Linked DNA regions of Homo sapiens: region 2 is linked to region 1. The links come from fine-mapping of genetic effects on gene expression. A gene starts in region 1. The other region holds a variant in brackets. All regions are shown on one strand. Distances are between the middles of the regions.

Region 1 (15,165 bases):
AACATAGACCTCATCTCTACTCTATGAAAATAAAATAAGGATTTATTATGAGAATTGGCTCACAGGCCTCAGAAGCTGAGAAGTCCTACAGTGTGCTGCCTACAAGCCAGAGACCCAGGGAAGCCCAAGGCGTGATTCAAACTCAGCTCATGTCCGAAGGCCTGAGAACCAGGGCAGCCGATGGTGGACATCCAGTCCCGGGGCAAGAGAGGATGACATGTCCCAGCTCCAGCGGCGAGGCAGGAAATGAGGGGTGAACTCCTCCTCCCTCTGCCGTCTGTTCTATTCAGGGTCTGGAGGGATTGGAAGGTGCCCAGCCACTTGGGGAGGGCAGTCCACCTTCCTGAACCCACTGTCCTAATCCTAATGTCATCTCGAGCACCCTCACAGACACGCCCAGGAACGGTGTTGCATCAGGCACCCTGTGGCCCAGTTCAGCGGACTCATGACAGTGACATTAGCTGCCAAGGGCTTCCTGGGTGCTGGGCCCTGTGCTGGGGGTTTTCCAACATGAGTGGACAAAACAGAGGTCCCTGGCCCCATGGAGTTAGGTGCTCCAGCAGGAAGGCAGGTGGCAAAAGTGCTAAGTAAATAGCATAGAAGGTAGGTTAGAAGGTGACAGGTCCTGTTGGAAAAAGAAAAGGCTGGCTGGCTGCAGTGGCCCATGCCTGCATTCTCAGCACTTTGGGAGGCCGAGGCGAGCGGATCAGGAGGTCAGGAGATCAAGACAATCCTGGCTAACACGGTGAAACCCTGTCTCTACTAAAAATACAAAAAATTAGCCAGGCGTGGTGGCGGGCGCCTATAGTCCTAGCTACTCTGGAGGCTGAGGCTGGAGAATGGAGTGAACCCGGGAGGCGGAGCTTGCAGTGAGCGGAGATCGCGCCACTGCACTCCAGTCTGGGCCACAGAGCAAGACTCCGTGTCAAAAAACAAAACAAAACAAAACAAAAATTAGCTGGGTGTGGTGGCACACATCTGTGGTCCTAGTTACTCGAGAGGCTGAGGTCGGAGGAAGTCTCCAGCCCAGGAGTCCAAGGCTGCAGTGAGCTGTGATCGCACCACTGCACTCCAGCCTGGATGACAGCAAGACCCTGTGTCCAACAACAACAATCCCACCAACCAGGCACGGTGGCTCACACCTGTAATCCCAGCACCTTGGGAGGCGGGCAATCACCTGAGGTCAGGAGTTCAAGACCAGCCTGACCAACATGGAGAAACCCCATCTCTCCTAAAAATACAATATTAGCTGGGCGTGGTGGCGCATGCCTGTAATCCCAGCTACTCAGAAGAATTGCTTAAACTCGGGAGGCGGAGGTTGCGGTGAGCCGAAATCGCGCCACTGCACTCCGGCCTGGGCAACAACAGCAAAAACTCCATCTCAAAACAAACAAACAAACAAACACCCCCCTACAGAGCGGGGCAGGGCTCAGGCGTGCCAGGCCCACACTCCCATTCCTGAGAGGGTGATCACAGTGGGCTCCATTGAGGTGGGATCTCTGAGCAAGGAGGCAGCGGGGAGGAGGGGCAGACCGTCCCAGACAGAGGTGGGTGTACACAGGCCCGCAGCAGATACGTCTGGGGGCTCAGGGGACAGCCGGAGGAGGCCAGTGTGGCTGGAACAAATTGGGGGAAAGAACAGGGGACGAGATTGGGGGAAGATGGGGACACATCGCGCAGGAGCCGGGAGGCTGTTGGAAGAGCTTTAACCTTTGCTCTGGGTGAGGTGGGGAACCGCTGCTGGGCTTGTGGCCAAGGGGTGGGGTACTCCTGCCCTAGCCATGCCAGGTGTCAGCGTGTGGAGGCAGCACCCCCTGCAACCTCTCAGAGTCCCCTCGGGGACTCCTGGGGACCTCGCTACGGAAGAGGCGCCCAGGAAACCCCTGAAGCTGGAATGCCCTCAACAACTCCGAGGGCTCTGGCATGAGCTTGGTCCTCTTTATTTATTTTTTATTTTTTGAGATGGAGCCTCACTCTATCACCCAGGCTGGAGTGCAGTGGCACAATCTCGGCTCACTGCAACCTCCGCTTCCCGGGTTAAAGCGATTCTCCTGCCTCAGCCTCCCGAATAGCTGGGACTAAAGGCGCCCGCCACCACACCCGGCTAATTTTTTTTTGTATTTTTAGTAGAGATGGGGTTTCACGTGTTAGCCAGGATGGTCTCGATCTCCTGACCTCATGATCCGCCCGCCTCGGCCTCCCAGAGTGTTGGGATTACAGGCGTGAGCCACCACGCCCGGCCAAGCTCGGTCCTCTTTCAACCCCACTGTGTCCTCCCTGTGAGATGGGTGTGGTCCCACCTGTCTTCCTCCAGGAGCCTGGCTGGCCCAAGTAGGAGGAGGAGGCACTTAGCCGGCCTCGGAGCACCCGACGCCACAGGAGACTCACCAGCTTATTTTTGTAGTTTCTGGGTACCGGTGACATGACCTGCTCACCGGCTTCTCGCTCCCAGACCTTCCACTCACCAGCACTGCCGCCCACAAGGGGCAAGCACCATAACCTCCCAGTTACCTCCAAATCATTCCCCTAGCGCCGCAGCCAGCTCAGAATTATTTGTTCTGTCCACAGGGGCCTATCAATTATTTCTCTGGAGCAGCCCAGGGCCTTCCAGATGCCCAGGATGGTCTGTGTCCCAGCTTTCCAGAGAATGACATGGTAAAACAGATAGCAATACCTGCGGGCACCCTGGACCAGCCCTGATCAACATTCCCCTTCCGGTGCCTGCCACCCTGCAAAGCCCCAAAATCACTTATTTTTTTTTTTTTTTTTTGAGACGGAGCCTTGCTCTGTCACCCAGGTTAGAGTGCAGTGGCGCAATCTCGGCTCACTGCAACCTCCGCCTCCTGGGTTCACTGCCTGAGCCTCCCGAACAGCTGGGACTGCAGGCGCTCACGACCACACCCAGCTTATTTTTGTATTTTTAGTAGAAACGAGGTTTCACCATATTGGCCAAGCTGTTCTCAGACTCCTGACCTTGTGATCCACCCGCCTCGGCCTCCCGAAGTGCTGGGATTATATGTGTGAGCCACCGCGCCCGGCCCAAAATCACTTTCTGATGCAACACCTTGTCCGACCTCCAAAGCCATCCTGAGATTCACCCATGTCATAACCCAGGAGACTGAGGCTCAGAGAGGGAAAGCCACTTGCCCAGGGTTACACAGCTCACCTGGATCTTGACTCCCAGCACAGAGACCCCTGACTCCAGTCCTCACACACGGACCTTCCCCTACTCTTGAGGGGGCTTTCCTGCCAGCACCCACACCCACCTGACCACCCGAAAACCCTGGTCAGAGGCTTCCCTGCCAGCAAACCCTCCTACTCCAGGCAAAGCATCAGGAAATGAGAAATGCTTTTTTTTTTTTTTTTTTTGCCTCTGTCACCCAGGCTGGAGTGCAGTGGCACAATCTCAGCTCACTGCAACCTCCTTCTCCTCCAGGGTTCAAGCGATTCTCATGCCTCAGCCTCCCTAGTAGCTGGGACTACAGACGCATGCCACCATGCCAGGCTAATTTTGTTATCTTTAGTAGAGACAGGGTTTCACCATGTTGGCCAGGCTAGTATCGAACTCCTGGCCTCAAGTGGTCTGCCTGCCTCGGCCTCCCAAAGCACTGGGATTTCAGAGGTGAGCCACCACACCCGGCTGAGAAATGCCTTCTTTTTACCAAAAGTTCACAAGCCCTACCACATTGGTTCCAGGTGTGACTTGGGCCCAAACTGCCAACCTCAGGCCCATCTAAGTTATTCAGGGAGGACCGAATGGGAGCAACAGGAAGGGCCACAGCGACAAGTTTTGCAGGGGACCAGAGCACACGCACAGAGGAGCCACGACCACAGAGGCCGTTTGCACACCCGCAAGCAGTGGCGGGCACGTGGGTAACTCAAGAGCATCTACATCGGAAACCCAGCCAGAGACACAACACCACCTTCAGCCAACCTGAGCCGCCCGGGAAGGAGTGGCCACGCCAGCTCCAGACTAGCCCGGCTGGAAGATCAACAGGATGTGAGAGGCAAGCTCTAAAAATAGCCACCTCCCGGGACAATCGCTTGAGTCCAGGAGTTTGAGACCAGCCTGGGGAAATATGGCAAAACCCCGTCTCTACAAAACATTTTAAAAATTAGCTGGGCATGGTTGTGCATGCCTGTGGTCCCAGCTACTAGGGAGGCTGAGATGGGAGGATTGCTTTCGCCCTGGAGGTCGAGGCTGTGGTGAGCTATGATTGCATCACTGCATTCCAGCCTGGAAGACAGAGCAAGACCCTGTCTGTCTGTCTGTCTGTCTCTCTCTCTCTCTCACACACACACAAAAACACAGCCACCTCCTAGTGCAGACTGGAGAATGGTGTGACAGGCTCCAAGCTAGGAATGAGAACGCTTAGCTCCCTCCATCCCTTAACACGGGTACAGCTCTCGGGCATCCAGGGCATGACGTCTGCCCACATACTATTTCCTCTCAAGAAGCCTTGTGGCCACATTCGTCTTCGTGGGTCATTCAGGAAAACCCCGGTCCCCACTGTCAGCTGCCAGCTGAGTCCTTCCATCCTGCCAGGTCATTTCTGCACAAGACCACTCCTCACATAGAGCCAGAGCTGCATGTGAGCCCTGGGGGTACCCACGGGGAGGGAGCCGCCTTAGTGGGGGTCAGCTTCGCAGCACCCTCTGGCACTCACCAACCCATCCATGCTCCAAAAAGGAGACCCCCAGATGGAGGTTTCTCGCTGTCCTTTGGACCCTGTCACAGTGTGTCCCCCTCCTCTGCTAACTGCAGTCATGACAGCAGCCAACAGGTCTCATGCCTGCGTCCTCCAAGCCACACACGGAGCCGCAGGTGCCACTGCGGTGTTTCAGGTGGGGAAACTGAGGCTCAGACGTTAAGTGACTTGGCCCTGGCGACACAGCTGGGGGCCAGCGGGGCCTGGTTTCAAAGCCACGCTTCACACTGGAACCCCAGCTGCTCCTGGAGCAGGGATGTTCTGACGGGGACAGGGGGTAGGACGTCTCCTCTCCCAGAGCACCCGAGTTCCAGCCCTGCTGCTATTAATACCATGGGTAAACTCAGACGCTTCTCCTTCCTCCTCCCCTTGCCTTTTTTTGTCCAAAGACTGGAAAAGAGCACGTCCGCATCCCCCCCCCAGGGAGGTTCTGCCGCTCTAAGCAACAAGGGCCGCCAGACTGGCCCAGTAACCAGGTATCCAAGGTCAGGCTGCCCTAAACCGCACAGCTCCGGGCACTCATGCTCCCCCATCTGACCACGCAGATGCCTGGCCTTTGGGCAAGAAACCATGCTCTGATTCTCGCTATTCTGAATGCGCTTTGCAAAACCTCCCAGCAGCTGCATCGAGCTATTCATTAGCTGACAGCGGAGACCTTCAGGCAGAACCAGACGGACGGATGGTTTTGGGGGTTTCTCACCTCTCAGTTTCCATTCGCTAGGAGGGAAAACCGGGGGCTTAGACCGCAGGGGTAGTGGCCTCCGGGCCAGACTCTTGGCTTCCTGTTCTCTCTCCTCACCTGCGAACCCCAAACTCCTCTGCCAAGTGTTTCCCTCCCGTGATGGGGGCAGAAAGGACCCAGGTCCCTGCCCTCCCCTGTCCTTTGTAAAGTTTGCCATTTCTCTGTCACCCCTCCCTTGCTTTTCTGGTTTTGAGACCTGTCTTACATCCCTGCAGGGATCATATCCACAGCCTTCTCCCTCAGTCTCCTGGGGGAGGAAGCCTTCTCCCTCCCCGGCTCATACACAGGCTGCGGGGAGCCCTGGGCACGACGAGATTCTCGGCGCCCTGGAGGTTCCCCGGGGACGTCCCGCACCCACCTGGCTCGCCCCAGCCCGGAAACGCCTTCTTTCGGGCGCTTGGCCCTGGATTCCCGACCCGTCCCCAGTTTGCTCCCATCGGGAAGCGCGCAGGTCGCCCTGGCCTGGGAGAGGATGGCGGGGAGGGGGCGCGTGGCCCTTCCCTGGCCCGGCCTTCCCTCTGCAGGACCTGCCGGGGCTGTGCGGACCCCGGCGCGGCGCTGCACCAAACCCTCGCCAAGTGCGCCCTTCGCGTCTCCGCGGTCCCCGCGCGCCCGTAGCCGCCGCCGCCCGGGCGCCCTCGGGACTTGGTGCGCGGGCCGGGCTGGACCCGGAGCTGCCCCTACCCACCCGCCCCGGCACGGAGGTCCCTCTCGGTCCCTGCGCCCCCGAGTCTTCCCCGCGCGCCCCCCTACCTCGCAGTCCCGCGCCCGCCGGAGCCGGCAGAGGCCGCGCCGGGCACCGAGCCCCGGGCAGCAGCGTGGGCAGCTCGGCCTGGGCCGGGAGGATCGGGAGGTCCCGGTGACGTCGGCGCGCGGGGCAGGGACCGAGGCGGGCGGGACTGGGGCCGGTGTGGGGCCGCGGGCAGGACAGGAGGGCCACACCCCTCCCGGCGCTCAGCGTCCTGCCCCACTCCCTCCAGCTGCCCGCGGTGGAGCTCACGTGGGACCCTCCAGCCTCCCAGAAACACCCGGGCAGGGGGGCCCCAGAGCCTAAAGCCAAACAGGTGAGGGAGGTCAGTCAGCCCGGGCCAGTTCGTGCCTCCCCAGGTGAGAGGAGTAAACCCGGCTACTCTGCAAGGCGCCAGGTGAAGAGGTGAACCAGGCCACCAGTTAAGGCCCCAGGTGAGAGGGGTGAACCAGCGCCACGAGGTGAGGAAGGGGAACCAGGCCACCAGGAGAGGCCCCAGGTGAGAGGGGTGAACCAGGCTATCAGGCAAGGCGCCAGGTGAGGGGGTGAACGAGGCCACCAGGTGAGGAGGTGAACCAGGCTTATCAGCGAAGCCCCAGGTGAGAGGGGTGAACCAGGCCCCTAGGTTAGCCCTACAGTCAGTGGCCCTGAGGACGGGCGCCCTGCCCTACCCTGGCCAGCTGTGAGTGCAGCCCTGGCCCTGTGCCAGCCACCAGGAGATGGAAAGGACTCTAAGTGCGGAAGGATGCCGTGAAGGCCGGCATGACGGCTCCAGACAGAGCCCAGAGGCCTTTTCCATAAACTGCCCTTTTCCTCTCTGCAAACCCTCCCAGCACCAGCTTCCCTCGGGCAGCCTCCCACCAGCTCTGCTTCACCGTGCAGAAATGCCCCCCACGCCCTCAGCAGCGCCCCACAGATGGCTGAGGGATTCGTCACCATCGTCCCACACCAGTGCAAAGAATTTTTTTTTTTTTTTAGATGGAGTCTCGCTCTGTCGCCCAGGCTGGAGTGTAATGGTGCAATCTGGGCTCACTGCAACCTCCACCTCCGGGGTTCAAGTCATTCTTCTGCCTCAGCCGCCTGAGTAGTGGGGATTATAGGTACCCATCATTGTGTCCAGCTAATTTTTGTATTTTTAATAGAGATGGGGTTTCACCTTCTTGGCCAGGCTGGTATCAAACTCTTGACCTCATGATACACCCGCCTCAGCCTCTCAAAGTGCTGGGAGTACAGGCGTGAGCCACCACACCCAGCCTCAAAGAATTTTTTTAAGCCTTAAGAAATAACACGGCTGGGCGTGGTGGCTCATGCCTGTAATCCCAGCACTTTGGGAGGCTGAGGCAGACAGATCACAAGGTCAGGAGTTCAAGACCGGCCTGGCCAGTATGGTCAAACCCCGTCTCTATTAAAAATAAAAAAATTAGCTGGGCGTGGTGGCTGGTGCCTATAGTCCCAGCTACTCGGGAGGCTGAAGCAGGAGAATCACTTGAACCCGGGAGGCGGAGGTTGCAGTGAGCCGAGATTATGCCACTGCACTCCAGCCTGGGTGACAAAGCAAGACTTTGTTTCAAAAAAAAAAGAGAGAGAGAGAAAAACAACACAACACTAGGTGTCCGGTGTGCAAAATTTGGAAAATTATGAAAAATAAAAACAAAAAGAAGACCCCATAAGCCAACTGTGTAGAGGTAACCTCTCTCACCTTCTTGTCAGACATCCTTCTGATCGCCTTCTCCTCCACATTGAAATGTATTTTTAAAAAGTTTTTTTTGAGACAGGATCTTGCTCTATTGCCCAAGCTAGAATGCACTGGTATAAACGCGAGTCACTGTAGCCTCGACCTCCTAGACTCCAGCAATCCTCCTCCCTCAGCCTCCTGAGTAGCTGAGACTACAGGTACGTGCCATCACACCTGGCTAATTTTGAAACTTTTATGTAGAGATGGGATCTCGCTATGTTGCTCAAGCTGGTCTCAAACTCCTGGGCTCAAACAACCCTCCCAGCTCGGCCTCCCAAAATGTTGAGATCACAGGTATGAGCCACCGTGCCCAGCCTAAATACATATTTTAAGGGATTCACGTCACATACTGCGTTCTGCAGGCGGCCCGTGACTTCACACTCATCAATAGCCAAAAGTCCGTCTCCACACCCTGATGGTCTGCGCTGGACTCCGTGTCATGGATCTGTCACCTGCTTTGGGATATTTTGGTTTCTCCTGGTGTCTCACTAGCATATATCACTGTGATAGACGATCTTGTTTCCACAGATCTTTGTACAGGTATCTGGTCCCCCTCACCTTGGGATAAATTCCTACAAATAGATTGTGACTCAGAAAGCTGCACTTCTTCACACGTGTTGCCGCAGGGATTTTCCAGGTTATTTCTGTTGGGGATGGAGAACCCAGAACCTGAGAAAAGATGAATGTTCTTTTTTTTTTTTTTTTTTTTTTCTTGAGACGGAGTCTCGCTCTGTCACTCAGGCTGGAGTGCAGTGGCGTGATCTCGGCTCACTGCAAGCTCCACCTCCCGGGTTCACACCATTCTCCTGCCTCAGCCTCCTAAGTAGCTGGGACTACAGGCGCCTGCCATCATGCCTAGCTAATTTTTGTGTTTTTAGTAGAGATGGGGTTTCACCATGTTGGCCAGGATGGTCTCGATCTCCTGACCTCGTGATCCGCCTGCCACGGCCTCCCAAAGTGCTGGGATTACAGGCATGAGCCACCGCACCCGGCCTTTTTTTTTTTTTGAGACGGAGTCTCACTCTGTTGCCCAGAGCTGGAGTACAAGTGGCGCGATCTCGGCTCACTGCAAACTCCACTTCCTGGGTTCAAGCGATTCTCCTGCCTCAGCCACCCAAGTAGCTGCGATTACAGGTGCCCGTCACCTCGCCCGGCTAATTTTTGTATTTTTAGGAAGGACAGGGCTTCACCCTGTTGGCCAGGCTGGTCTCGAACTCCTGACTTCAAGTGATCCACCCGCCTTGGCCTCCCAAATTGCTGGGATTACAGGCGTGAGCCACCGAGCCTGGCCTGAATGTTCTGTCCTAAAGCTGCTTATTACAAAGAAGTTGTGGAATATCCTCCCCCCAACCCCCACGCCCCTCCCTGAATAGCCACCGGAAAGGAAATTATGCATCGAGGCCGGGCGCGGCGGCTCAACCTGTAATCCCAGCACTTTGGGAGGCCGAGGCGGGCGGATCACGAGGTCAGAAGATCAAGACCATCCTGGCTAACACAGTGAAACTCCATCTTTACTAAAGATACAAAAAATTAGCCGGGCGTGGTGGCGGGCGCCTGTAGTCCCAGCTACTCAGGAGGCTGAGGCAGGAGAATGGCGTGAACCTGGGAGGCGGAGCTTGCAGTGAGCTGAGATCGCGCCACTGCACTCCAGCCTGGGCGACAGAGACTCCGTCTCAAAAAAAAAAAAAAAAAAAGCAATTATGTGTCAAGCCCAGAGTGGCAGTTCCTCCTCTGTCTGTTGGGTCAGCCCGGGAGACTGGAAGCCCAGATGAGTAGGGCCCCTCCTGGGTGCCCCAAGTTGGGTGGCGCCATGCCCAGTGCCAGGACCCCCGAAACACAGAGGCAGCCTGCTGATGACCTGGCCCCTGCCAGCCAAGGCTTCACTCAGCCAACGCCCTGTCCACACTGCACCCGGGACACGCTGGTCTCCCACCGGCAGACTGCACACCCCTTTCTGGTTGAAGCTACCTCGTCAGAGTCTATTCTAGAAAGAGGCCGTGATATGGGGACCCCTGTCCTTTCAGTGATGAACAAAGGGGGCCGCCCCCAACTTTGACCCCATCACCATCCTCTGACCCAGGCCGACTTGGGGTTAAAAGAGAACTGTGTGGCCTGGGGAAGCTGCTTCACCTTGCCCTGCCTCAGTTTCCCCAGGGTGGGTTACATAGCGGCTCCCAAAAATGTGCCTACTTGCACCATCAGAATGGGACCTTATTTGGAAACCGAGTCGTTGCAGATATGGTTAAAGTAAGGATCTCAAGATGAGGTCATCCTGGGTCAGAGTCAGGGTGGGCCCTAAATCCAATGCAAGTGACTTTGTAAGAGACAGAAAGAGGTTCCTCATTGGAGGAACAAGACAATGTAAAAAATAATGACAATTTTTTTTTTTGAGATGGAGTCTCGCTCTGTCACCCGGGCTGGAGTGCAGTGGCGTGATCTTGGCTCACTGCAACCTCTGCCTCCCAGGTTCAAGCGATTCTCCTGCTTCAGCCTCCTGAGTAGCTGGGATTATAGGCGCGTGCCACCAAGCCCAGCTAATTTTTGTATTTTTAGTAGAGATGGGGTTTCACTGTGTTGGCCAGGCTGGTCTTAAACTCCTGACCTCAAGTGATCCACCCGCCTCGGCCTCCCAAAGTGCTGGGATTATAGGCATGAGCCACTACACCCAGCCAACAATTTTTTAAAAAGAGAGAGAAAGAGGCTGGGTGAGGTGGCTCACGCCTGTAATCTCCAACACTTTGGGAAGCCGAGGTGGGAGGATCACTTGAGCCCAGGAGTTGGAGACCAGCCTGGGCAGCATCTCTACAAAATATTGTAAAAAACAGACAGAGCTGGGCGCGGTGGCTCGCGTCTCTAATCCCAGCACTTTGGGAGGCCAAGGCAGGCGGATCACGAGGTCAGGAGATCGAGACCATCCTGGCTAACACGGTGAAACCCCGTCTCTATTAAAAATATAAAAAAATTAGCCAGGCGTGGTGGCAGGCACCTGTAGTCCCAGCTACTCGGGAGTCTGAGGCAGGAGAATGGTGTGAACCTGGGAGGCGGAGCTTGCAGTGAGCCGAGATCGTGCCACTGCACTCCAGCCTGGGTGACAGAGCCAGACTCTGTCTCAAAAAAAACAAAAACAAAAACAAACAAACAAACAAAAAAACAGAAAGTTGAAGACACAGAGACACAGAGGAGAAGACGGAGATGGGAGTGGTGCAGCCACAAGCCAAGGACACCTGGAGCCCCCAGAAGCAGGAAGAGGCAGGAAGGACCTTCCCCTGGAGCCCTCTGCAGAAGTTCGGCCCTGCCCCAGCCTTGACTTCAGACCACTGCCCTCCAGAATTGACAGTGAATGTGTGCTGTTTGAAGCCGCACAGCTGTGGTCATTTGTCACGGCAGCCGCAGGAAACTCATCCACATTGGAAAACAGGAAAATGCTTCACACGGGTTTTATAAGGAAGAGGAAAACTCTCCCGGGGCATTGGCACAAGGAGTCCTGGGAAGCAGCAGCTGCTCACCCAGCAAACTCGAGCCACAGAACAGGGGCTTGGCCTCTCTGCAGCTCAGCCCTGCTCCAAGGCCAGCAGGCGAGGGTGCAGGCAGACAGTGCTGTGGGGACAGAGGAGGACGGCTCTGAGGCTGGCTTCACCGCACAGCAAGATGAGCCCGGGTCAACGGCAGAGATGGGGGTGTGCCAGGTGGAAGGAACCGTGCGAGCACAGGCCTCCCTGTACAGAATGCCTGCAGGGATCTGGGCAAAGATGGGTGCAGGAAGTGGGGCAGGGTCAGAAAAGCTGGAGAAGAGATGAGGCCGCATCTGGGGAGGGGGGTTGCTGAGGGCCAGGGGCTGGGGGGTGAAGGGGCTCGGAACACAAGCAGGGGAGCCGTGTATGGCCCAAGCAGGGGTTTCCATGGCCCGACACTGAGGTCTCCTGGGTGCAGTAGGTGACGTCCAGGAAGGAGGCAAAGGGGTCTGAATCCTGGTCCAGGCAGGATGCACGGGGCCTGACCCCAGCACTGCCTGCGGGACTTGGGGTGTCCTAGCACAGAGTACAGTCAAGCCCTCTTCCCTGCCATGGGCTCCGTGCCCGTGCCTCCGTTTCCCCAGGCCTCCCTGGAGCTGTCGCTGGAGCACTGTAGGAATGCAAAGCAAAGCTAAGGACCCTCGCATCGGCCTGAGGCCTCCTGGGCAGCCATTCTTCAAGGGACTGTGTGCTGGGGGCCCACCCGGTGTCATCTCATGCTGGACACGAGACCCTGACTCCTGGAGCTGCAGTTCCCACCCCCCACCCTGTCCTGGGGTAGCTGGGGACCCTCTCAGGCCTGAGGGGAGGACAGGAGCTCCCCAGCACGAAGAGCGGGGGGAGGCCAAGCAGGGCGAGCTCCCAGACAGGCTCAGCTGGCCCTGGCCCCGGCCCAGCCTCCCTGTGCCCAGCCTGTGAGGCCGCCCTTTGAGCTTCTGGATTAGTATTCACGTCGGGTCCCCAGCTCTGAAAGCCCTTGTTCCCTCCAGAGAGCAGCCAGAGCGGCTGGAGCTGGGGGCGCGCTCAGTGCAAAGTGACAGCCCCAGCACATAAACTGGGGCCCTTAGCCCGCTCCCCCAGGACCCCTCCTCCGCTGTTTGGGCTCCCATGGGCTCAGCAAGGCTGGGGGACTGGGAGGGAGGGGCCGCCTGTCCATCTCTCTGTCTGTCTGTCTGTCTCTCTGAGTTTCTATCTCTGTCTGTCTGTCTCTGTCTCTTGGGGTTCTTGGTCTCTCTCTCTGTCACCATCTCCCTCCTCCCTCCATCCCTGTCTCCTACCCTCTCATGCTGTGTGTAGTCAGGGGCCCCAGGAGTAACCCCACATGTAGTTTCTCCAGCAGGAAAAGACACACGGACCAGGCACGTGGGGACGAATCTCCAATGACATCTCCCTGCACCACCTGTCCCTGTCGGGGTCTGTCTTGACTCTGAGCTGTCTGCAGACTTCCCCACAGCCCCCACAGTTGGACCCCAACAACAAGAATAACAAAGGCTTGGCTGGGCACCGTGGCTCATGCCTGTAATCCCAGCACTTTGAGAGGGCAAGGCGGATGGATCTCTCGAGCCCTGGAGTTTGAGAGCAGCCTGGGCAGGATAGCAAGACACCCCCATCTCTACAAAAATTAAAAAAAAATTAGCCGGGCGTGGTGGCATGCACCTGGGAGGCTGAGATGGGAGGATCACCTGAGGGCGTGGTGGCATGCACCTAGGAGGCTGAGGTGGGAGGATCACCAGAGGCCGGGGAGGTCAAGGCTGCAGTGAGCCATGATTGCACCACTGCACTCCAGCCTGGGCAAGAGTGAGACCCCGTCTCAAAAAATAATAATGAATAACAAAAGCTGTGTTGATGATGCCCATGGCCAGGCGCACGCTAGCCAGGCTGACTTGGGGCTTTCGGGCCTGAGTGGCACCGAGCTCAGCCATGGCCCCGCTCCAGCCCTGCATCCTCAACTCTGAAACGTAGTTCTAAGATGGATGGGATTGGCCACGAGGGGGCATCCGTGGGCAGGGAAGCAAACAGTCGGTGCTCAGCGTCCTGGAAGGTTTCTGACCTGGAGGCCGCCCTGCCCGGCGCCTGTGGGTCAGTACCCCATTGGTGGATGCGGGGATCCCGAAGGCCTGGTGTCTGGTGACTTGGCCAGGCGCCTACCCAGGGCCACACCACGGACCATGGAAATCTCCTCGGAGTCCTCAGACACGCCTGGCCCCGGGCTTGACCAGCAGGGTCGTCAGGGAGGCCCAGCATCCATCAGGGTCGTGCCCTGGGAAGGAGCCCCCAGTGAGCGCATGGGCTGCGCTGGGCAGGCCTGTGAGGCACGTGAGGGGCCCCAACTCTGTGGCCAGCACGAGGAGGCTGAACCCACGGCCCAGCGGCTTCGTCCAAGAGACCAGAGCTGGCCTGAAGCAGCCAAGACCTTCCTGAGCCATCACCTCCACCTCCCACATAGTCGGAGCTGGGGTCGGGGGTGAAAATGAGGACGGAGCCCCTACTCCTTGGGCATCTCCAGCAACCCCAGCCACAGAGGGGATCTCAGGTAGCAAGGAAAGCTGGGGTGCCAAGGACGTGCCCGGCTCCCTCTTGAGGCTTCGCGGCCCAGGGCGGCTGCATGTCTGGGCTCCTGGAAACACCTGGAGAAGCCCTGCAGGATCCGGGGTCTCCCGGGGTCTCCAGTGCCTGCTGGGTGGGCTGCACACCTGCCCAGCCTGGCAGGGCTCGGGGAGCCTGTGGGGCCGGAGACCCAGGCAGGTCCCCAGAGAGCCGAGTGCCTGTTAATGGGGGCTCCAGAAGCAGCCCCCTGGTGAGACCGCCACCAGCACCCAGACCTTCTCAGCGCCTCCCATCCCAGGAAACCACATCATCCCAGCCCTGCCCTCCTTCTTCAAGTGCCACTGTCACCAAGGAGCATCTAGTCAACCTCCAAAATCTCTCTCAACTGCCCGCCCCACCCAGGCCGGCTATAGACTCCCCAGCTTCCACACACCCCCTGCCAAGCCACTTGCCCCAACAGGAAGCCTTTCAAAGACCACGTCTCACTACCGCCAGCTGTGAGCTGCGTCCCTCAGCTCTGTCTGCCCCAGCCTCACATCCCTAGTTCCTACCTCCGGGGTCCCTCTGCCTACGAGGCACCCTTCACCCCCAGCTGGGCCTCCTCAACTCGGATGAAGCCCCAGGATGAAGCTCCTTCAGGGCTATGGCCCCTCGCCACCTCTCCCGGGCTCCAGACTCTGTCCTTTCTTCCCTGGTCTCCTGGCCTTTGCCCAGGCTGTGCCCTCTGCCTGGAGCAGCAGCCTGGATGCCTCCCACCCCACATTTAGGCTTCAGGCCCCACAGCTGCCTCTTCCCAGAACCCTCCCGGCACGCACTTCGGTGACTCTTACAAGTACCTGTTCAGCGTCAGCCTTCGCCCAGGAGTGCAGGCTGGGGACGAGGGCAGTGGCCACCTCTGCCGGTCCTGTCAGCACCTAGTGCAAAGTCCAGCCCACCGTGGGCGCTCAACGCAGGCGGCTGTGCTGCCGCAGGTCACAGCACCAATCAGACACCCCCATCCCCACACACACCCTGCACCGGCCCACGCGGCCATCACACTCGGAGCACACGCGCTCCGATGTGGCTGCACTGTTGGCACACGCACAGGCGCGCACACACCCACACGCACGAGCGCACACGTGGGCGCACACACGCCGGGGCGCCCTGACCTCCCCGCACGCCCTCCCGCAGCC
Region 2 (15,165 bases), 24 kb before region 1:
GTCTTGGACTCGAGAAAGACGTGTTGGCCTTTGCTGAGAAGGGGCGGTTCAGTCATGCTGTATCCAGAAAACCAGGCACACTGTGGCGGGCAGAGCACCCTGCCTGAGAGAGAAAATGGACACTGGGCCCACAGTCAGGAGAGCCAGAGCTCTCGGCATCAGAGGAGCCCCAGGGTGGAGCCACGTGACTCCATGCCGGGCTCAGTTTCCATGTGACAGAAGTGCGTTCATTAAAAAGCCCAGGGAGCAGGCATCGAGGGAGGCCTCAGTGGTGGAATCTGGTAGGTGTCGTCTCTGGTTAATCTTGCGAGAGCTCGGGCCCCTCTCAGAGAGGGCAGGAGGTTGGACGGGCCTGGCTGCCGCGGACCCTCTGAGGGCCATTGTGGAGCCGCCGGGGGAGGCAGGGGCCGCCGTGTTTGCTCGACTCCGGTGACTATTTGGATTTGCCTCATCGTCACGGGAACACTGCAGCGGGGAAGAGTTGGACTGAACGCGTGGTGACCCCAGGACGCTTCTTGGAAATTGCTTTTTAAAATAAACCCCTGACATCAGCCTGTTTTCATTTGCCTCCCTACCCAAGAAGCTGAGTTCAAAAATAAACCTCCATTCTTCCGGGTTCTCATTCATCAAGGTGCTGCTGTAGGATGTCAGAAAAGGGAAGGCTCGGCCGGCCGTCTCCACCCGCGATCTGCATCTGTTTTTAACAGCGTTCGCAGGCCAGGGCTCTTTACAGTCAAGCCGGAAGTGTTTCCTAGATTACCCTGCGGTGTTTATCTTTGACAGCCTCGTGTTCCAAGAGCCATAAATTTGCTGCTGCTTTAGGTTTCCTTGAAACTGGGCACCTCTGTGTGCAGTTGCCCCACAGGGATCACAGCTAGATTTCAGCTCTGGAGCAGCCTGCGTGCGGGGTGAGCTCCAGAGAGCCCTTGGGTACAGGGCGAGCCGGTTCCCGGGGCCTCTCCCAGGACGGCAGCCAGGCCCCCGTGAGTCTCTCACTCTTACTGGAGCTGCAAAGCCAGCTTAGAGGACGGGCCGTCGTTTGCTTCCAGCACACAGGCAGGCAGACCCAGTTCAGGTCTATGAGCCCCGTCGCGAAGCCCTGATTCTCTCCGTCTTCACGGGGATAAAAATATTCCTGTGCAGGCCTCGCCCTCCTTTTATAAACAAAACAAATCAGTGAAGCCCCAGCAATCACGGGGGTGTTTTCGTTGGCACCTCACCTAAGAGTGCCGGCCACCCACCCAGGCCTCTCCTCAGAGTCCGAAGGAGCTGCACGGGCCAGAAAGCCTCCTGGTTATCAGAACCGAGGGGCGTGGGTGCCGGTGTGTGGGGGCTGCTCAGGGATCAGGGTGCAGGCCTCCCGCGTCCGTGCGCCTTCTTACTCTCTTCCTGCTCAGACCGCTCCAGCTTGCTTTTAGAAAGCTGCACAACAGCGGGAGAACTCGGGGTTCAAGCAAGAACAGACTGCGCCTCAACTTCCGCTCTGCCGTTTCTGAGGCTCCAGCCCTTCCCAGTCCCATCTCGACAGCCACAGCCATATGGTGGGGATGCAGCCATCTGCCTTACAGGTCATTTCGAGACTCGATGATGATGTAAAAAAATTCCGTTACATAGGAAGGACCCCTTAAGCGGTGGAGTTGACTGACCCACTAGGGAAGACTTGCCTGTCCAGGTGGGCCTTGGGCAGGGCAGCCGGTCCCTCTCTCCGAGGCCTGGCCGTCCCTGCCTGGTGGGTCTGCAGAGCAGCTCCCTTGGCACTGTATGGAGACCCTCTGCGTGTAGGTGTGTCCCTGGAATGTTCTAGCCTCCCCCTTTGAACTTGGTGGGATCTAAATTTGGACTCCCAGCTTTATCACTCGTGCTTGACTAAGCCATTTTATGTTTAAGGCTTTTGGAGATTTCGTTCATCGGGGAAAGGTCTGAAGCAAATATTAACAGGTCGGCATCCCTCCCTCCTCACCCATGCTCTGGAAACGGGTGGTGGCAGAGCTCCACTCACTGTCCCGTGCCCTCAGGGTTCACACCATGGACAGGAGTCAGGATGCTGCTTCTCCCCTCTCCCCACTCTGACAATGAGTTTGGGCTTTTTGGGGAGGAAGAGAGGGAAAAGAATGAGATTTCGGAAGAGGACTGCGGGGCTGCCTGAAGAGAGATTTGCCTCAGAGGGGACACTGCTTCTCACCCCTTCATCATAGCATGGCTGTGACGTGGGAGTGTGTATTCTAGCCACTTCAGAAGGCATGTGTTAGCTTCCCCAGACTCATCGCACACACAGCAATACAGATAACATCTGTCATGACCTGAAACTATTTTTAGCTCCATGAGGCCCCGCTGACTTGGCTTACCAAGATGGGTGAGGCTCTCCGAAGAGAGGTCATCGTCAAGCTGGAAGACCCATCCTTGTGAATGCAGGGGCTTCTGACAGATGAGACGAGAAAGCAATTCAGTGGACTTTGCACGTGTTTAAAAACTGAAAGAACCGTGGCCCTGTGTGTCTTGGAAACCATCATCTCTAAATTTAATCTCAGTTCAACTTCTGCAGCACTTAAGTTTAGAAAGATTCGTGAGCTGTGACCTTCCTCGAGAAGGCAGCCCTCATTCTCTCTCCTCTGCCTTGCGTCTTTCCTGGTGACTGTCCCAAGTCACTCTTCACCACAGCACAGACAGAACCTGGGGCTAACACGGGGGAGAGGAGGGAAACCAATTTCTCTTCCTCAAAGTTGCATTTCAAAACAGTCCTTCTAACAGCTGTCTTAAAAAATTTCACTGACATCTGCAAGTTGGTAAACGCTGCGGATAAAAGGAGTTTTTTTTAGTGGTTTGCTCCTTCCCACTTCAAAACGCTTTTTTGGGACACACATCACAGCTGAGGGTCAAAGGACACGGGTACAGAGAGCGCCGAGGCTTTGGTCATAACCCCAGTGGGCTCCCACCCTCAGCATGAGCCAGGCATTCTATTTTTATCACCTCTGTTTAATCTCGCATCACTCCAGCGGTTAACCTTTTGCAGAAGATGAAGGAAATCGGAAAACAGGTCAGGCCACCTCGCAGGTGCACCAGCCAAATCCCCACAGTGAACGCCGAGTGGGGCTGACTGACTGTTCATGAATGGCCACAGCAATATTGTGTTGTCTCACATTCCCTGCCACGTCCCCTCCCCGTGAACCTGGGGTGGGGTCCTTGTCACTGCCGCCGTGGAGTGCAGGAAAGGTGACGCTCTGTGACGTGAGGCCGAGTTAGGAAAGGCCACAGAGCTTCCATCTGACCCTCCCGATGTCCACCTTAGGAGGGCAACCGCCATATTGTGAGGAAGCCCAGGTCCCTTTCTGAAAGTGACCCTCTTTTTTTCGTCTCCCCTCTTTATTCTGGCACAGTTACCTCCCAGGTCACTGTCATGCCCTTTAGAAGCCATGCAAAAGAGAAGGGTATGGATGAAGGTCCTAATGCTACATCTGAGCTTCTCTGAAATCAACACATACTTGTCCCTTTGCATTTTCCGGGACTGGGACCAGGAGCCTGCTGTCTGGCTCTGGCTGCCCTGTTTGTCGGGTTTCCTCACGGTATGGCAGCTGCCTTCCTAAGAAGATGCCCCTCCTCCATGGAGAGTCTCACGTGGGCAGGAACCAAGGCCTGAGATTCCCAGCCAAATTCCACTTGGCAGCCGTGTGAACGAACACTCCAGTCGAGCCACAGGGGCAAACCGTCTCCACCGAGCTCTGCCCAAGTTACAGATTCATGAGCTAGACTGTGGTGATTTTAAGCCACTAAGTTTTGGGTGGTTGTTTGCAGCAACAGCCACCAGGCTCCGGCTTTCACCTTCTGTTACTGCAGGGTGCTCTGCCGGCACCTTCCATTGGTCACTTTCTGAAAGGCCTAGCTCTTCATCTCCCCTCCCAGGTCACTGTTACGCCTTTTTGAAGCTACGCAAAAGAGAACGGGACGAAGATCCTAATGCTACTTCTGAGCTGCATCTTTGCTTCTCTGAAGTCAACACGGAGTGGGACCAGGACCGGGAGCCTTCAGTCGGCCTCCACCAATGTCAGATTCACAAGGAAGCCTCAGCCCACCTCACCTGCATAGCCCTTCTAGTTTTAGTTTTGTATTTTGTTTTTCTTAGAAGCCCTCCATAACCGTGTGAGCCACCCACCCACAAAAGGTCCAAGCTGCCCTGTTCTTGCCTCTCTCCAGATGAGGGTGCGCGAGCTGTGACCCCGCCCTCGTCACTCCGAAGGGATTCCGCTGTCAGAACCGGAAGTCTCTCTCCCAGAGACCCTCCACCACAGGCTGAGGGGGTACGTGTGACAATAAAAGGGTCAATTCCTCAGGAAGACACAACAATCAAATGTGCAGGGACGTAAAGGAGCTTCAAAGTGCAGGAAGCAAAATCCGGCAAAACTAAAGGGAGACAGATCAAACGCCCAGCCATGGCAATAATACCCCTCTCTCAGCAACTGACAGAACTAGACCGAAAAAAAAAGGAAAGACAGATCATCTGATCACCACCTCCAGCTACTTGGTACTGACAGCGCGGCCACCTTTGCCAAGAAACTGTCCCAAAAACATCACCACAGTTGATCTTCCCCACGGTGAGCTGTAGCCGCCTCAGGAATAAGGGGGCCTCTGCCCTCAGTGCACGTCAGACACCCTCACCTCCTGCAGTGTTTGTCAGAAGAGATGCCTGGAGAGCCCCGGTGAAGTCCGTCAGGATCAGGATGCTGTTAGCGCCACAGAACGTGACAGTGTGTGTGTGCATGTGGTTGACGCCTGAGATGATAGAGACAAAACCCCGTCACTTCCCCGTTAGGGAGGAGACTCAGCCTTGGAAGCTGGGTGGCAGTGTGGAGCCTGTGTGCCCCCGGGGTCACTCCTCATCTGAGCCAGCCTCTCCAGCTCCAGCTATAAATAACTGAAGGGCAGGCCCACAGCCTGGAAGGAGACAGGACGCACGCTGCTTCCTTCTGCCTCTGCAGGGGAGGGGGCTCTGTCCCAACCTCAGCACAGTCCGGCTTGTACTCCACGAGAAGCACCCAGGATCAGGGAGGCCTCTCCATGTGTGCAGGCCCCTGGGAGCGGCTGGCTGGGACTCAGGAGTTGAAGGAGGCGCCTGAAGACAGGTGGTCTGTGGCTTCTCCAAAGAACTTTTTTTTTTCTGGAGACAGTCTTTCTGTGTGGCCCAGACTGCAGTACAGTGGTATGATCACATCCCACTGCAGCCTCGACCTCCTAGGCTCAAGCAATCCTCCCACCTCAGCCTCCTGAATAGCTGGGAACACAGGCATGAACCACTTCATCCAGCTAATTTTTTAATTTTTCTTTTGTAGAGGCAGAGTCTCACCATGTTGCCCAGTCTGGTCTCAAACTCCTGGCCTCTCAAAGTGATGGGATGACAGGCCTGAGCCACCACCCAGGCAGACCCTTCCTCTTTATCCCTGGCAGGTCAGTAGTGGCCTCAGCTACTGGACAGTGCTGGCCAGCATCCTTAGGGAAGGAGACGTAGGGCAGCCCCTGCTGTACTAACTCTCTTCCCCATCCCAGGGACGGGGGGCCGACTCTGCTCTGGCGAGTTTTCGGGCACTCAGCTTCCTCCTCAGGGAGGAGAACTTGTCCCCCAGCACCTTGCGCAGCCCCACGCTGTCCCTGCTGCTGGGTGGGTCCTGCCTGGTGGCCGGGAGCTGGCCCGTGAACATCTCCCAGCGGTCGAGGGCGTCCACGGCTCTGTCCACCTGCACCAGGTCCTCCTCTGCCACTTCCCGCTGCAGGGCCTGGATGCACATGGCCAGCCACCGTTCATGCTCCTTGATGGCCTCCGCAGGGCCCCCAGGTGGCAGCGGAGCCTCTGAGGCTGCCAGGTAGCTCAGCCCTTCCTCTGGCCCCGAGGCGAAGGTGTGACTCCCGGCATCAGGGGTGAGGGGCTCCGACACACTGGTGCCGGGCTCCGAGTCACTCTCACAGCACATGCCCGAGTCGGCGCTGGCAGGCGGGGTGTCCTCCCACACTGACGGCTCCCCCGCCTCCTGGCTGGGCCACGTCCCCACCACCGCCTGAGTCCAGGTGTAGAGTCTCTAAGAGGGAGAAACACAGGCTGAGTTTGCTCCGTGCCAGCCCTTGTCTAGCCAGGGAACTGCCAGGAGACCTCCTTACCTAAGGGGACCCCACCGTCCTCAGTTACCCAGGGGCGGGAGTCAGGCTGGTGGTGTGAGGGCTCTTGTGACCAGCACCCTTTGAGGACTCATGTCCAGGCTGTGCCAGAGTCAGAGGTACCCACCCCCAAGAGCTCACCATTCAGGAACTTCGCAAGCTCCTTGTCATCCAAAGTTAGAACACTTAACATTTTTCGATTTTTTTAAGACAGAGGCTCACTCTGTTGGCCAGGCTGGAGTGCAGTGCTGCGATCTCAGCTCACTGCAACCTCCCCCTCCCAGGTTCAAGCAATTCTCCTGCGTTGGCCTCCTGAGTAGCAGGGATTTTACAGGTTCCTGCCAGCATGCCTGGCTAATTTTTACATTTTTTAGTGGAGACGGGGTTTCACCATGTTAGCCAGGCTGGTCTCAAACTCCTGACCTCAGATGACCCACCCACCTCCGCCTCCCAAAGTGCTGGGATTACAGGTGTGAGCCACGGCACCCACCCAGAAAGCGTATAATTAAATAAAATTTAAAATTTTAAAGCAAAGGTGTGGGCATGGTGGCTCACGCTTGTAATCCCAGCACAGGGAGGCAGAGGCAGGAGGATCACTTGAAACCAGGAGTTCAAGACCAGCCTGGGCAACATAGTGAGACCACCAGGGGGAAAAAAATGTAAAGCAAAGGCAGTACTTGAAACTCACTTCCTAAATGTTTTCTCCATTTCACTCTCACCTCTGCTCTCAAGGTTAGTCTCCTCTCCTGCATCTGTACAGGGGACACACAGTTTAACAAGGTCCCACTGCACATCTGTTCCCAACTCAGCACTCACTGACATCACATTGGGAGCTCACATCAGCCATCGTGAGACTGTTTACACCACAGGAAGTGGCAGAGACCACAACAAGTCAGGCTTTCTTCAAGAGGCATTTCACTGATTGCTGTCAGTGGACAGCAGTGACCTTTTCTGGCCAGGCCCTTGGTCAGCTCTCCAGCACCTCCCCAAGCCCTGGGACAGCAGGTGACCTCACATCCACACCACTGCCCTCCCTACAACAGCCAGGAGGGCCAGGCCACCCTGGAGTGCCTTTGCCCTGGCCCTCTTCCCTCCACAGCCTCAGGAGATGGTGCTCACGGAACGGAGAGAGCTCTGGGCAGGAGGAGGAGCTACACCCTCCAGCTCAGATCCAGGTGGATCCAGGCTATGCCAGGTCAGCACGTGTAGGGAGGGGCATACACTTTCTAAAAGTTCATGTCAGATGGTTGCACAAGACCCCAGGTGAAGGCATCAAATGAGAGCTCTCAACCCTTTCTGCAGACCAAGCTGCCCCTGTGCCTGTTACACAGCCTCAGGAAGGTACTAAGAGCTGCCCCTTGACGGGGCACAGCTGGCAGCAGCAACCTTTACAAGGCATCACCAGGTGCTGACCAGCCATCACGCCACCTGTACCCTCGGGAGATGCTCCTACCCTCAGCCATGGCTGCGCCTGGGTTCCCCCCAAGTCACAGGCTCTTCTCCTTACACTTGGAAAAGCTGTTTCCTCTGTGCCCCCTTCACCTTCCCTTGACTGCCAGAGTCTTCAGAGAGGATCCCTGCAGAGAGATTCCAGCACTGTGAGCTAGAAATGCCACGGCCTCTAGTTCAGTGTCACCCAGGACCCTGCAAGATACAGCTCCTCACTCTACCCCAGAAGGAAGGAGGGCCCAGCTAGGCCCTGCAGGGGATTCTGACAGGCTCGGTCCGGGAACCACACCCCCACTTGCCTCAACGGGCGGGAGGAGGATGCAGGGGCTTTCCAGCGCGGTTTCATTGACTGCTCTGGTGCCTGTACGCAGTGAGCACCTTATAACTGGTTGTAGTCCAAAGCTGGGTTTGAAGAAAAATTACCACCACCTGCCTTTGCACTCAGAACTCAGAGTAAAGCTTTTGAGCTTGCAAACAAATGTCCATGAATACGGACGAGCCCTTTGCTCG[G/A]CAACCCCACCCAGGCGACAGAGGGAGTTAGGAATGGAGGCCACCTCCAACAAGCCTTGTTGTGTCAGCTCCCACCTCCTCGCAAGGGGCCTGTGCCTCCTCTGAGCAGCAGTGACCCAAGTGTGGGTGACGGGAAAGCAAAGAGAAAGTTACCCTGGGAAGACCGTGCCACCCGCCGGCTGGGCTCCAATGCCAGCTCTTCCTGACAGAGGGAGAAAAGCCCTCGTCCCCACTCGACCCCGCTGCAACCTCCCAGTCACAGCCACCACACGCGGGCCCTGGCAGGACTCGATCTACTGCCAGTGAGATCCGGATGGAGCTCAACCCCAGCGCAGGTCCCAGGGCTCTGCACTGCCTGGAACCCGGCAGTTGACAAAGCCTGTGTGCGGTCCCCATGCCCTGCGTAGCCTCCAGGCGGCGCTCGCGGGCCTCCGGAGCGCAGGTCCCAGCAGCCGGGCAGCGCAACTCAGCCACTCACCTGGTACCTCTCGATGAGCCTGAAACCCAGGACATGCTGCAGCTTCCTCAGGCAGATGGGACAGAGGTCCAGGGGCCGCCGCAGGGCCTCGTCCAGGCTGAGCGCACCCTGCATGAGGCAGCGGAGCCAGCGGCAGTTCCCCAGGCCCAGAAGGTGGCAGAGCTCGTGGCACGTGACCTGGGGGGAAGGCCACCAAGCACCTTGCCTCACTGCCTTGCCCCTGCATCCGGCAGATCCCCAGGCAGCCCCAGCAGGACCAAAATGAGGACCTGGGTGAGGCCAGATGGCCGGGAGGTGGTCCAGGCGCCCTCCCCCTGCCCCAGGCGGCACAGGCCACTTTCAGGGCCCCAGGGGAAAGGTGAGTCAGGGTGGGAGGCCACACAGGATAGGGGCTTGGGGCTCTAATCCCTCCCCTGCTGCTTCATAGCTGTGTAGCCTTGCTTTCCTCATTCCATAGAGTTAGGGGTCCATCCACTTCACTGTGAGGATGGGGCAGTGTAACAGACCGAGGCACCAAGGGCTCAGACAGCACCCTCCTGTCCCCTCTTACCAGCCCCAGAGCCCCCACCCACCTTGCAGCACTGAACCATCCCCAGGGCACTGAAGCACAGGGCCCAGCCCCTGTCCTGCAGGGGGGCCTCGGGGCCGTCTGCTGCTGCCTCTACCAGGGCCAGATCAGGGGCGCTGGGCCCCGACTTCGGGAATTCCCCTGAGAACCGGGCGAAGCTGCAGACGCCCACTTCTGGAGAGAGATGGAGAGAAGGGCACTCTCAGGGGTCAGCCTTGGCTCTGGGGGGCCCACCGTCAAACCCACCTCATGCTCTCATGCAAGCTGGCCATGGCCCAAAGACATACCAGTCCTGGGAGGCCCTGTCCTGCCCACATGAAGTTGGGCCCTGGGGCAGACGCCACAGCTGAGGAACAGCCCCTATGCCATTCCTCAGGAGGAGCTGGAAGGGGCCATCTATTCCCATGCACAGGTGTTGACTTCCACCAGGAGGGTGCTTGAAGCAAAAGCAAAGAGGGTGCCCTGCAGCCACGGAGGCCACAGCCCCATGCCAGGCTACCCCCCACGCACAGCTGCTGGGGCCCCGGCTCACCGTGCCCTGGAAGGAACTTGCTGAAGGTGAAGCTCCAGGCCTCATGGGGGTACAGGTCAGACAGTGTGAGGCCCAGCACACACAGCGCGTCCCCTGGCTTGTTGTTCTTCAAGAAGGACAGGATGCCGTCTGCGGGGAGAGGGCCAGAGGATGGGGTCAGGAGGCAGCCGGGGACCCCCATCTTCCAGGCTCAGGCTGGCACCCCGTCATCCTCTTCCTCTGCCTGGGCCCTGCCCCTTCCCAAGTCAGGTGTGGGCCACCAGCGTTTGGTGTGACCTGAGGGCACACAGTACTGCATGATGTGGAGTGACAGCCAGGGCCATTTGGAGATCAGGACATGGTAAGTCAAAGGCCATGGACAGCCCAGTGGGGACGCTGGAGAGGCAGCCGGGCCAACAAGACTGGCGCTTGCAGCCCCAGGAAGGAGAAGCCACCTCAGCAGCTGAGCGACAGCCCCAGAGAGTCCACGTCTCAGCCCTGGGACCTGTGAGTCCCCACAGCCAAAGGGGCTGCAGATGATTAAAGATCTTGGGATGGAGGCGTTTTTCTGCAGCAGCCAGCTGAGCCTGATGCCATCACAAGAACCCTCGGTAAGGCCGGGCACAGTGGCTCACACCTGTGATGCCAGCAACTCGGGAGGCCAAGATGGGCAGATCACCTGAGGTCAGGAGTTCGAGACCAGCCTGGCCAACATGACAAAACCCCATCTCTACTAAAAATACAAAATGAGCCGGGCCTGGTGGTGCGTGCCTGTAATCCCAACTACTCAGGAGTCTGAGACGGGAGAATTGCTTGAACCCAGGAGGTAGAGGTGGCAATGAGCTGACATCACGCCACTGCCCTCTAGCCTGGGCAACAGAGCCAGACTCCATCTCAAAAAAAAAAAAAAAAAAAAAAAGCCCTCGTTAGAGGCAGCAGGGGGTCTGGGTGAGAACGTGAGGCCTGAGGGCACTGCAGGGCTGGCTCGGAGGAAGGACCATTAGCCAAGGATACGGGTGCCTCTAGAAGCTGGAAAGGGCAGGAAATGGATTCTCCCTGGAGTTTCCTGGAGCCAACCCTTGACTTTAGCCTGGGCAGTGGGGGCGCTCCTGACCCACAGCACTGTGAGATCACAGTGGGTCATCCAAGCTAGCAAGTTGTGTAACTTGTTAGCATGGTTCCCCGGAGCATGAGTGTGGACAGATACAGGAGAGGCCCAGGGGCTGAACCTGGGCACGATGGCATCAAAGCCGGGAAACCAGAAGCCCAGGGAGGGAAGGGGGCAGAGCAGCCACCACGGGCCCAGGAAACCCGGAGAGGGTCTCAGAGTTAGTGTAGAGAAGAGGGGTTGCGGCACAGAGGCACACCGGAGAAGTGTTTTCCAAGGAGTTCTACCATTAAAAGGAACAGATTGACAAGGAGGTTGTTCTGTGTGTGTGTGTTTTTTTGTTTTTTTTTTTTGAGATGGAGTGTTGCTTTGTTGCCCAGGCTGCAGTGTAGTGGCGCTATCTATCTCAGTTCACTGTAACCTCCGCCTCCCAGGTTCAAGCCATTCTCCTGCCTCAGCTTCCTGAGTAGCAGGGATTACAGGCACGTGCCATCACACCCAGCTAATTTTTGTATTTTTAGTAGAAAGGAGATTTCACCATGTTAGTCAAGCTGGTCTCAAACTCCTACCCTCGTGATCCGTCTGCCTCGGTCTCCCAAAGTGCTGGGATTACAGGCATGACCCACCACAGCTGGCCCTGTGTTTGTTTTTGAGATAACATCCCATTCTGTCACCCAGGCTGGAGTACAATCACAGCTCACGCTGCAGTCTCCACCTCCTGGGCTCAAGCAATCTTCCTGCCTCGGCCTCCTGAGCAGCTGGGTAATTGATTGACAATGATGCTAATGAGGTGATGATGATTGACAGTGATGATTGTTGTGGATCAGGCTATGTCCCCCAAAAAGACAGGTGGAAGTCCTAACCCCCGGAACCTGCCATTGTTTGGAAACAGGATCTGTGCAGATGTAATCCAGTTAAGATGAGGTCATGAAGGAGACCCAGTGACTGGAGTCTTAGAAGAGACGCAGAGGCACATGGCGTAAAGCTCACGGGAAGTCAAAGGCTGAGGTTGGAGTTGTGCATCTGGAAGCCACAGAGGGCTGGGCATTGCCAGCAACTTCCAGAAGCTGGAGGCAGCCAGGAAGCACCCTCCACGGAGCCTTCTGAGACCACGTGGCCCTGCCAAAACCTTGGTTAAGAACTGCAGGCTCCAGCGATGTGAGACAAGAAATGTCCCTAAGCCACTCAGTTTGTGGTACTTTGTTACGGCAGTCCCAGGAAACCAGTACAGTGATCCAAAGCATGCTACTCTCTGGGCAAGATGGCAGGACCCCATCTCTACAACAATCAAAATAATTAGCCAGGTGTGATGGCACGTGTCTGCGGTCCCAGCTACTTGGGAGGCTGAGGCAGAGGAGCCCAGGAGTTCAAGGCTGCAGGGAGCTATGATCGCACCACTGCGCTTGAGCCTGGGTCACAAAGCAAGACCCCATCTCTAAAAAAAAATTAAAAACCAGGCTGAGCTGACCCCACAAATGCAACCTGGCATACCCTCTGAGTTCCACCTGCTTTTGAACCTTCCCGAGTGCATGTCCTTTTCCCGAGGGCTCCCCCGTGCACCTTCTGAAGTGTGGGGCTGGGGAAAACAGCAGTTTGTCCACTAAGCAGAGGGGGTGGAAAGCCCTGGAGTGACCCTTGTGGGACTTGGTGCTGTCTCTGAGCTGCCACAGGCCTGGCACCAACAGGTCAGAGGCCATAACAGGTGAGACGCACCGTGTACGGCGTGGGGGAGGTGAGGAGAGCTGAGGCTGCAGAGGCCAAGCCTGAGAGGCACGGGGTCCCCGGCTGTGTTTTAGGGCCAGGGCCAAGGCAGGCCACATTGTCCCCAGACCCCACTGTAGGACCTCAGGGGCTGGGGAAGCCTGTGGAGTGTAGGCTGTACCCAGAAAGCAGGCCAGGACAAAGAAACATGCCACCCAGGGGATGGCACCCCACCCCAGCCAGGGGACCCCTATCAACCCCCAAATCTCAACAGTGGCTGCTCCCTGTAACAGTACCCTAGGGAATTTAGACAACCCTCCCGCCAAAAGATGGCCAGACAGGCAGAGTGAATGATAAAGAACAGCTGCTTCCAACACCCACGATGGGGAGGAGTGGATTAAGGAGAAAGGTTTGGTGGCCGGTAGAGGGGTAGAGAGCCGCCCTCTATATGATTATGGTGATGGCCACGTGATGTATGCGTGTGTCAAGACTCAGAACCTTACACTAAAAAGGATGAATTTTACTATCTAAATTATACCTCAATAACCAAGGCAGAGACCTAATGAGAAAAACGGGGAGGACTGGAGCTCAAACAGATGAAGCTGGACTGTTTCTGGGGTGGGGGAGTGGGCAGGATGACCCTGACATGCTTCCTGCCCTGGGAGGGATGCGGAGCCCTGGGGACCATCAGAATGACCCAGAAAAGCTTCATGTCTTTGTCCCACAGTCAGCCCTTTGGTGCCTGGCAGAAGGAAAAGAAAATCCTCTATGGTGAAAAACATCGGCCCAGGCCAAAAATTCTCAAAGTTAAACTAATTTTTCCAATAAGATGCGTAACTAACAATCAAAAATAACAAGGCACAATGAAGCAGGATAACTGAGACAAAATTAGCAGAAATAACAAATACAGGCACATGGGCACTCCAGATAGTGTAATCATCGGACAGACGGTCAAGCAACTATGTTCATGGACATCAATGCTGAACTTAAAGAAGTGTCATAGGCAACTGAGACCTATAAAAATGTGACACTGGGCCGGGCGCAGTGGCTCACACCTGTAATCCCAGCACTTTGGGAGACCGAGGCAGGCAGATCACCAGGTCAGGAGATCGAGATCATCCTGGCTAACACGGTGAAACCCCGTCTCTACTAAATATGCAAAAAAATAGCCAGGCACAGTACTGGGCGCCTGTAGGCCCAGCTACTCGGGAGGCTGACGCAGGAGAATGGCATGAACCCAGGAGGCGGAGCTTGCAGTGAGCCAAGATCATGCCACTGCACTCCAGCCTGGGTGACACAGCAAGACTCCGTCTTAAAAAAAAAAAAAAAAAAAAAAAAAAGCGTGACACTGCTAATTTCAAAAAGAATCCACTGGAAACTGTAGAACTCACAAACATGACAACTGAAATTAGGAACACAATATATGGGGGTTGTGATTTTTTTTTAATGATCGGGTCTTGTTCTGTCACCCAGGATAGAGGGGAATACAGTAGCACGATCACAGCTCACTGCAGTTTCAAACTCTCAGCCTCCCAAGTAGCTGAGACTATAGATGTGTGCCACCACTGCCAGCTATTTTTATATTTTTTGCACAGACAGGGTCTGGCCTAGTTGCCCAGGCTGGTCTTGAACACCTGCTGTCAAGCTATCCTCCCACCTCAGCCTCTCAAAGTACTGGGATTACATGTGTGAGCCACCATGTCCAGCCTCAATATATGGGTTTAAGAGTACCTTAGATGAGGCCAGGCACAGTGGCTCACGCCTATAATCCCAGCACTTTGGGAGGCCAATGCAGGCAGATCATGCGGTCAGGAGATCCAGACCATCCTGGCTAACACGGTGAAATCCCGTCTCTACTAAAAATACAAAAAAATTAGCTGGGCATGGTGGCAGCCGCCTGTAGTCCCAGCTACGCGGGAGGCTGAGGCAGGAGAATGGTGTGAACCCGGGAGGCAGAGCTTGCCATGAGCCGAGATTGCACCACTGCACTCCAGCCTGGGCGACAGAGCAAGATTCTGTCTCAGAAAAAAAAAGTACCTTGGATGTGACTCCAGAGAGAGTAAGCCTTAGCCAAAGGATGAGAATAAATTCAGACTAAAGCATGAATGATCATAAAAGATATTATAGAGAAGAGAGTAAGATGGATTAATATACATTCAGTTGGAGTCATAGGAGAGAAGAGAATGGGGCAGAGGTGATAACTGACAAAAGCAGCAATGGCTGAGAGTATCCCAGAACTGATGAAAGCTGTCCATCCGCTCATTCCAGCCCCTTTGAGGCCCTCCCTAAACTTGAGTCTAGGTTTCCTATCCACCAACAGAGCCCTCACTTCACCTCTGCCTCTCAACCCTGCCTCACACTCTCCAGTCACCAGCGACCCTCAGGGAAGGGGCAAGGGCTTGAGGGTTGAGATCTAGGCACGTGTAAAGTACTATGCAAAGACGGAAGGTTGGAGCCATGCTGAGTGGCCTTAGAAGGGCTCATTTCAAGCCAGTGACGGTGACTCACGCCTGTCATCCCAGCACTTTGGGAGGCTGAGGCAGGCAGATCACTTGAGGTCAGGAGTTCAAGACCAGCCTGGCCAACACAGTGAGACCCTGTCTCAACTAAAAATACAAAAATTAGCCGGGTGTGGTGGGCGCTTTTAGTCCCAGCTACTCAGAAGGCTGAGGCAGGAGAATCGCTTGCCTCAACCGGGAGGT

Evidence for each region.
Region 2: its variant is fine-mapped to the expression of AMZ1 in whole blood (TOPMed, PIP 0.96).

What each region holds. Positions count from the first base shown.
Region 1 is chr7:2,679,336-2,694,500 of GRCh38, reverse strand. AMZ1 (archaelysin family metallopeptidase 1) reads right to left here and starts at 6,299. Exons shown (of 7, transcript NM_001384743.1): 1 at 6,205-6,299. RefSeq lists enhancers at 5,331-5,600, 13,175-13,680.
Region 2 is chr7:2,703,227-2,718,391 of GRCh38, reverse strand. AMZ1 (archaelysin family metallopeptidase 1) reads right to left here. Exons shown (of 7, transcript NM_001384743.1): 4 at 9,676-9,804; 5 at 9,148-9,317; 6 at 8,576-8,752; 7 at 1-6,062. The coding sequence ends at 5,514. Among named protein-coding and RNA genes, the nearest start is that of AMZ1, 23 kb to the right of the region's middle. RefSeq lists enhancers at 6,909-7,068, 7,709-7,758, 7,769-7,988, 8,134-8,829, 8,749-8,848 and 1 more and silencers at 5,051-5,250, 8,429-8,588. The variant G/A (reference allele first, on the strand shown) is at 8,098.